Homo sapiens: one gene and its partner. The protein of the gene in region 2 interacts with the protein of the main gene of each other region in a pairwise test. Each region holds a gene or a part of one and is shown on either strand. Other genes may lie near its edges. The genes, in order: CLIC6 and ZNF234.

The links.
Region 1: the proteins of ZNF234 (region 2) and CLIC6 interact in a two-hybrid assay, tested with the Homo sapiens proteins (one large-scale study listed by BioGRID and IntAct).

The regions. Positions count from the first base shown.
Region 1 is NC_000021.9:34,671,989-34,675,814, reverse strand, and holds part of CLIC6 (chloride intracellular channel protein 6), read right to left. Parts: intron 1-3,826. UniProt on the Homo sapiens protein: In the soluble state, catalyzes glutaredoxin-like thiol disulfide exchange reactions with reduced glutathione as electron donor. Can insert into membranes and form voltage-dependent chloride-selective channels.
Region 2 is NC_000019.10:44,155,030-44,158,855, reverse strand, and holds part of ZNF234 (zinc finger protein 234), read right to left. Parts: intron 2,605-3,826; coding exon 737-2,604; 3' UTR 1-736.

The DNA of each region.
Region 1 (3,826 bases), on a different chromosome or scaffold from region 2:
CCCGACCCACTATTTATCTGCACCAAAAAGCACAGTGGAGGGCCTGCCATGAGCCCACTGCAGTGGCAGGTGGTGAGAACCGAGAGGCAATGACGATAGGGCTCTCACTGAGTGTGGCAGGGGTATCCCCACCCCCAGCATGCATGTGCACACCTGCACCTGTTTGTATGCAAGAGGTTACGCAAAACATCATGCTCCACCTGTTTCCACCCCCAAGTAACCCGGTACTGATTTCATATGTGTAATTTGTAGGCAGGTTTTCTAAGACAATAAAAAAAAATTACAAAAAATTTGTTTTTAGGGGAGAATTAAAGTCTCAGAAATGCATCTTTGCTCACTTTCCTTCAGAACACATAGTTGTGAAAATAACATCTCCCTTTCAAGCTCCCTGGAGACCAAGCCCCATAGAACAAGTCCCAACATGCTCTCTCCCAGTGACATGTCCACAGAGAGCCACAGCTTACCGTTCTACCAGGAGTCCATCAGACGCTGGTCCTGGCTCATTCTTGCCCAGCCCTGTGGTATGGCAATGCTTGGAAGGCTCTTTTTTTTTTTTTTTTTTGGAGGGGCGGGGGCTCATTTCTGGGTGACAGTGCTTATTCAAAGGCCATGTCCTTCTTGAGTTTTACTGTGTTTCATCGGGTCAGTTTCACCTCTTTGGAGAACCCAAATGTGAATACAAATGCAAGTTTTTTTAGCTCAGCAATAACTGCATGTTTACAAGTAAACAGGTGGTGTCTAAATCCTGGGTGGCCCAGGACTAATCACTGGTCAACACTGAAGTTTTTTAAGTCATGTCAAATTTGCCAGGAAAGCCGTAGCTCAGACTGTCCCACCCAAAGACCCTGACTCAAAGCTTACACGCCAGATTAGGGGAACCAAAGCCGTAAGCAAGACTTCCTTGGCGACTAAATCTCCACTACCGCTGAACTCCTTACTTAAATGAAGTTCTTACTTAACTCTCTGCTGCTAGTGTTTTGCCTGTTGTTATTATGTTGTTGTGTGATTATGTGATTATGTTGTTACCCTTTGTTATTATGAGGAAAGAAAAAGAACCTTTCTTACTAAATATATTGCAGAGTTACCCTATAATTTGATGACAAATAATTAACACTTCTTTGAGAAAACAAAACTAAAAATTAGCATAATCAGCAATTAATTTACCACAAAATAATTTAAGACCTTTCTTGGCTGGTTCTATATGTTCCTGGCTTCTGTACAAGAATGCATCCTTGCATGCTTGTAAAATAAAACAAACTGACAAATTAATAACATGACAATTCTCATAAAGATGGAGAATATATTAGATGGCTAATTAGAAGCAAATGTGGGACAATTATTATTACATGTTACTACATAGTTAGCCATGACTTTCTGGTATATTTGTAACCAATATATTTATTTTTAACAAAATAGGAAGAGAGGCCAGGCATGGTGGCTTGTGCCTATAATCCCAGCACTTTGAAACGCCAGAGTGGGAGGGTCACTTGAGCCCAGGAGTTCGAGACCCTCTGGAGCAAAAAAGTGAGACCTCTGTCTCTACAAAAATTTTTTTGAAAAAACTAGCTGGGTGTAATGGTGTGTGCCTGTGGTCCCAGCTACTCAGCAGGCTGACACAGGGAGACTGCTTGAGCCTAGGAGCTGGAGATCAGCCTGGGCAACATAGTGAGACCCTGTCTCAAAAAAAAAATTGGAAGAAATGTGAAAGCTAGGAGTTCCCAAATAAAATATGGGCTAACTGATTTTAAAATGTGTTTGCTCAGCTGTCATATGAAGGCTAGGAGAATGTTTGAGAGAATATTGCAGTACTTTCCTTTAAACCCAGCTGTGAATTCCACACTCCAGCTATGCCATACAAAACCCACCATGAAGACGCATCTAGGCATGTTCACAAAACCCAGCTCAGGTGTCCACTGTAGAATAGAACCCAGACAAAACTGAGCCCAAAAAAGGAGCCTAGAAAAGGCTAATTCTGGCAAAGAAATCCTATTCTGAACTAATTTCCAGATTTTACATCAAGTATTTCAAACTCAGAAAATATGAGTCTAAAGGGTGTTTTTTTGTTTGTTTGTTTAGTTTTGTTTTTTGCTTTGATGTCTGTCTTTTTTGTTTTTGTTTCATTTTGTTTTCAAAGAGCATAATTGGTAGGATAAGAAGAAACTGAGACACAATATCAATACTGTGAGGCTCATGATAAGTGACCCCTCAGAAGTTAACAAATCTCAGCCAGGTGTGGTGGCTCAAGCCTGTAATCCCAGCACTTTGGGAGGCCACGGTGGGTGGATCACCTGAGGTCAGGAGTTTGAGACCAGGCTGGCCAACATGGCGAAACCCCATTCTACCAAAAACACAAAACAATTAGCCAGACGTGGTGGCGCATGCCTGTAGTCTCAGCGACTCAGGAGGCTGAGACACAAGAATCACTTGAACCCAGTCTGTGGAGGTTGCAGTGAGCTGAGATAGCACCACTGCACTCCTGTCTGGGTGACAGAGCAAGAACCTGTCTCAATTAAAAAAAAAATAAAAAAGTTAACCAATCTCATCATTTGGAGATCTATCTGTTTCCTTAAGAAAAAAAAAAGTTAGCAACTGAGCACCAGATCAATCATCAGAATAAAGCATTGTGGGTAAGCTGCTCGTGCTGGGCCGCTGCTGGTGCTAGGCCACATGCTTCTGCCCACACAAACTCCTCCCAAGCAGTATTTGAGGAAGCAAGTTGTTTTTACTTTTCACAACATTCTTATCCCTAGAGATTGGAGGTAATTACGTACCTAGAGGGATTTTCCCTAAAAATAAATAAAATAAGTAATGGCAGGGATAACTGTTTCTGTGCAAAATCAGTGCAAGTTATGCGAGCAGCACAGATGTAACAATAGGAACTCACATGTGTACTAAGCTTATTTCCAGCCAGGCACTTTTCTAAGTGCTTTGTGTAATCTAATTCTCAATTTCTCACGGTAACCTCAAGGGCTAGGTACTATTACCGTCCCCATTTTATCAATGAGACCACAATGATACCAAAAGATTAAGTAACTTGCCCAAGGTCACACGGCAAGAAATTAGCAAAGCCAAGATTTGATCCCAGACCCACTGGCTCTAAAGTCCGTGTTCTTGATCACCACACTATCCAGCAGCTAGCCGCCCATTCAAGCCTTCACCACATCCCACACCTGTGTTCTGCGCTGGAGATAGAATGATGAATTTCACACAGCTGAGGAAAGAGACATAGCAGGCTGAGGGCAATGCCTTAACAGGGTCATCCGACTGGGACTGGAAGATATGACATCCATGCTAACTCTTGGACTTGTGGCAGATAACTAGGCAGGAGGGCAGACAGGGGCGAGGAGGAGAAACTCCATTCAGACAGAGGGTACATAATGTAGAAAGTTTCAAGGCAGGAAAGAACGTGGCTCCCTCAAGGAACAGTAAGTAGTTTAATCCAGGTGGCATAGCGAGACCACAGGTAACAAAGGGTGGGGACACCCAGCAATGCCAAGGCCAGAAAGAAAGAAGGCAGAAATAACATCACAAAGGGCCTTGTGGGCTGCCTAAGGAGTGGGGATTTACCTGAAATTCTGCAATAAACAACTGAAGAATTTTACACAAAGAAATAAAATGATCAGATCTTGTCCGCAGCTCACTGGCTATTACAAAGAGACTAGATTGGAGAGGACAGAGAACTGAAACAGGGAGACTAGCCAGAAGCTGCTACTGTCCATCAAAACTGTGCTAAGAGGCCGTGTGCCAGAATCATGTATCCTTACAACCACAGCAACGGGAAATTTCTAAAACCAAGGTGATGGAGAGGAGCAGATTTGGGGTCACA
Region 2 (3,826 bases):
GTAGCAAAGTTCCTGCCCCCATGGAGCTTACAGTCTAATGGACATCAATTCTGGCACCTTCATCAGTATACTTTTTTAAAGCCCAGGTCAAACTCATTTTCTAAGTCCTATTTCCTAGGTAACATGTCATAAATGTCAAAGTTTTGACAGAATGCTTTACTGTACCACTTAACAAGGGTTCTCAGCTGTGTGGTCACTGGACCACTGGGATATGCTGAGCTATTGCTTAAACACTGACTTAAATAAAACAAATATTTTAAATAAGAGAATGCTACTGTAATTAGAAGGCAATCATTTCAAAGTCTAGATGGAGGCCAGGGGCGGTGGCTCATGCCTGTAATCCCAGCACTTTGGGAGGCCGAGGTGGGTGGATCACATGAGGTCAGGAGTTTGAGACCAGCCTGGCCAGTATGGTGAAACTCCATCTCTACTAAAAATACAAAAATTAGCCAGGCGTGGTGGTGTGCACCTGTAATCCACTGAGGCAGGAGAATCACTTGAACCCGGGAAGTGGAGGTTACAGTGAGCTGAGATAGCACCACTGCATCCAGCATGGGCAACAGAGCGAGATTCTGTTTCAAAACAAAAAATAAAAAACAAAAAAAAGTCTAGGTGGAAATGTGGAGCGTTACAAATCAAATAAATTCAAAGAGGTTGATAAAGAAAATTTTTCCCTCCTATGAAATCTAATTACAAGCATTCAGGTTGTACATGAGTTCTGTTTTTTTTTTTTTAATCACCTTGTAGAACTTCCTCCCTCTGACAACTCTCTGATGTTCTTACTATTCTCATCATTTTCATAAAATGTACCAGCAGCATGAATTTTGTGATGACTTACAAGATTTGATCGCCAGCTGAACCTCTTACCACATATCTCACATTTGTAAGGTTTTTCCCCAGTGTGAACTCGCCTATGATACTGTAATTGTGAAGACCGACTGAAGACTTTACCACATACATCACATTTGTATGGTTTCTCTCCTGTGTGGACACTCTGATGAAGTTGGAGACTTGAGGCCTGACTGAAGTGCTTCCCACACTCCCCACATGTATAGGGTTTTTCTCCTGTGTGCACCCTCTGATGCATGTCAAGGTTCAAGCTCCACTTGAAGCCCTTTCCACACTCCCCACATTTGTATGGCTTTTCTCCAGTGTGGACTTTTTGATGGGCTTGAAGGTGTGCACTCCGACTGAAGCTCTTCCCACACTCTTCACATTTAAATGGTTTTTCCCCACTGTGAACTCTCTGATGGGTTAGAAGATGCGAGGCCTGACTGAAGACCTTCCCACACTCCTCACAATTATATGGTTTCTCCCCTGTGTGGATCCTACAATGAATTTTAAGATCTGCTCTACGACTAAATCCCTTTCCGCACTCTTCACATTTGTATGGTTTCTCACCGGTATGGATCAGCTGGTGAATCTGAAGTCGTGAGCTCTGATTGAAGCCCTGCCCACACTCTTCACACTTAAAAGGTTTCTGTACACTATGTGCTTTCAGATGGATTTTAAGATATGAACTCTGACGGAAGGCTTTACCACATACTTCACATTTATAGGGTTTTTCCCCTGTGTGGACTACCAGATGCACTTGATAATGAATTTTCATTCTGAAGCTCTTCCCACACTCATTGCATTTGTATGGCTTCTCTCCAGTGTGGACTCCCTGATGGGCCTGAAAACTTGAACTGTAAATGAAACCCTTACCACACACTTTACATACGTATGGTTTCTCTCCAGTGTGGATTCTCCGATGGGCCTGAAATTGTGAAGGCTGAATAAAGCACTTACCACATTCTTCACACTTGTAAGGTTTCTCTCCTGTGTGGACCCTTTGATGGATACGAAGGTTTGAGCTACAAGTGAAACACTTACCACAGTCCTCACATTTGTATGGTTTCTCTCCTGTGTGGACCATGCAATGATTATTAAGTGCTGATCTACGACGGAAGTTCTTACCACATGTATCACATTTGAATGGTTTCTCCCCAGTATGAATTCTCTGATGTTCCTGAAGATGGGAAGCATGTATGAAGGCCCTTCCACATTCCTCACAATTGTAAGGTTTCTCTCCTGAGTGTAATTTGCAATGTACAGTAAGTGTTGATCTACGACTGAAGCCTTTCCCACATTCCACACATTTGAATGGTTTCTCTACAGTGTGGACTCTCTGATGAGTTTGAAGATGTGAGCTCTGACTAAATTCCTTACCACACACGTCACACTTATAGCATTTCTCTCCCATGTGGACTCTTTGATGAATATGAAGGGCTGAGATGTAACAGAAGCTTTTTCCACACTCATCACATGTATGAGACTTCTCTCCTGAGTGTAACTGTTGATGAAGATCAAAGTTGAAGACATCAGTGAAGGATTTTTTGTACTCATCACATTGGTAAAATTTCTGTCCTGTGTGAGTTGTATATAGTCCTGCCCTAACCTGGCAGGACAAATCACCTTGTCTGGGGAACCGAGAAATACTTATCATAGAGTCTTCATACTTGATTAAATCACTTGCAATCTGTTTCCAGATTTGCCCCCAGTAAAGCTCTTCATGTCGTCCTGCTTCTGGAACAGTCTCCACCTCACTTTGGATCTTGTCTGCTGTAAGGACAGAGAATTCAGAGATGTGGAGGCTCTGTTAAAAGTTTTCAAGATGTCATACTTAGGCGAGAGCATGCGATTTTAACAAATCCAGAGAAGGTCCAGTTTGTGTAATGGTCTTTTCCACTGTGTATCATGATCTCTGATTTCCATGCCTAGATAAATCAAGAGGTGGTCCAATTGGCTGCTATCTACCAGGCATTAGACCATACCAAGTCTCCTATGTGAGACACAAGTTAGAAGTCAGAGTTAATTTTAAAAATTAACATGATACAAATTGTACTGCCATTTCCATCGAATTTTAAAGTCAGTGTAGAATAATAAATAGTAAATTATCTAAATATAAAAAGCATAGGCCAGGCATGGTCATGCCTGTATATCCCAGCATTCTGGGAGGCTGGGGCAGAAGGATAGTTTGAGGCCAGGGGTTTGAGACCAGTCTGGGCAACAAAGCAAGAATGTACCTCTATTAAAAATATTAAAAGTTAAAAAAAAATGTAGATAATATAAATCAACAAGAACTTCAAGGGAAAGTAAGAAAATAATCAAATATTTTGCAGTTTAGGTTCATGTTACATATTCAAATTATTAAATAACCTGAAATGTTTATATTTACATGTTCAAAATACAGTTGACCGTTGAACAACACAGGTTTGACCTGCATGTGTTCACTTATACATGGATTTTCTTCCATCTCTGCCATCCCTGAGACAGCAAGACCAACCCCTCCTCTTCCTCCTTATAATTTTCTTAATAACATTTTCTCTTCTCTTTATTGTAAGAATAAAGAATTCTTCCTTTATTGTAAGAATATAGTATACAATACATTATAACATACAAAATATGTGTTAATTGACTATGTTATCAGTAGGTCTTTCAGTCAAAGTAGGCCATGAGTAAAGTTTTAGAGGGGAGTCAAAAGTTATACTTGGATTTTTTACTGTGAGGGGAGTTGGTGTCCCTAACCCCCAAGTTGTTCAAGGATCAACCATATTCTTGAATATTCTGCATAACATATACACTTAATCTTATTTTTCTGTGTTGACAGACATTAAATGAGCTGACAACTATTATAAACTCTTGACCACTTCTAATATAACTTAGATTTAAAATGTTTAAACCCTTCTGAAAGGTTTATCCTTAATAATATTCCAAAATGTTTAATCTTGTATAAAGAGATATAAATATTTGGAAATTATTTTTTAAATGAACTCTTCCACAA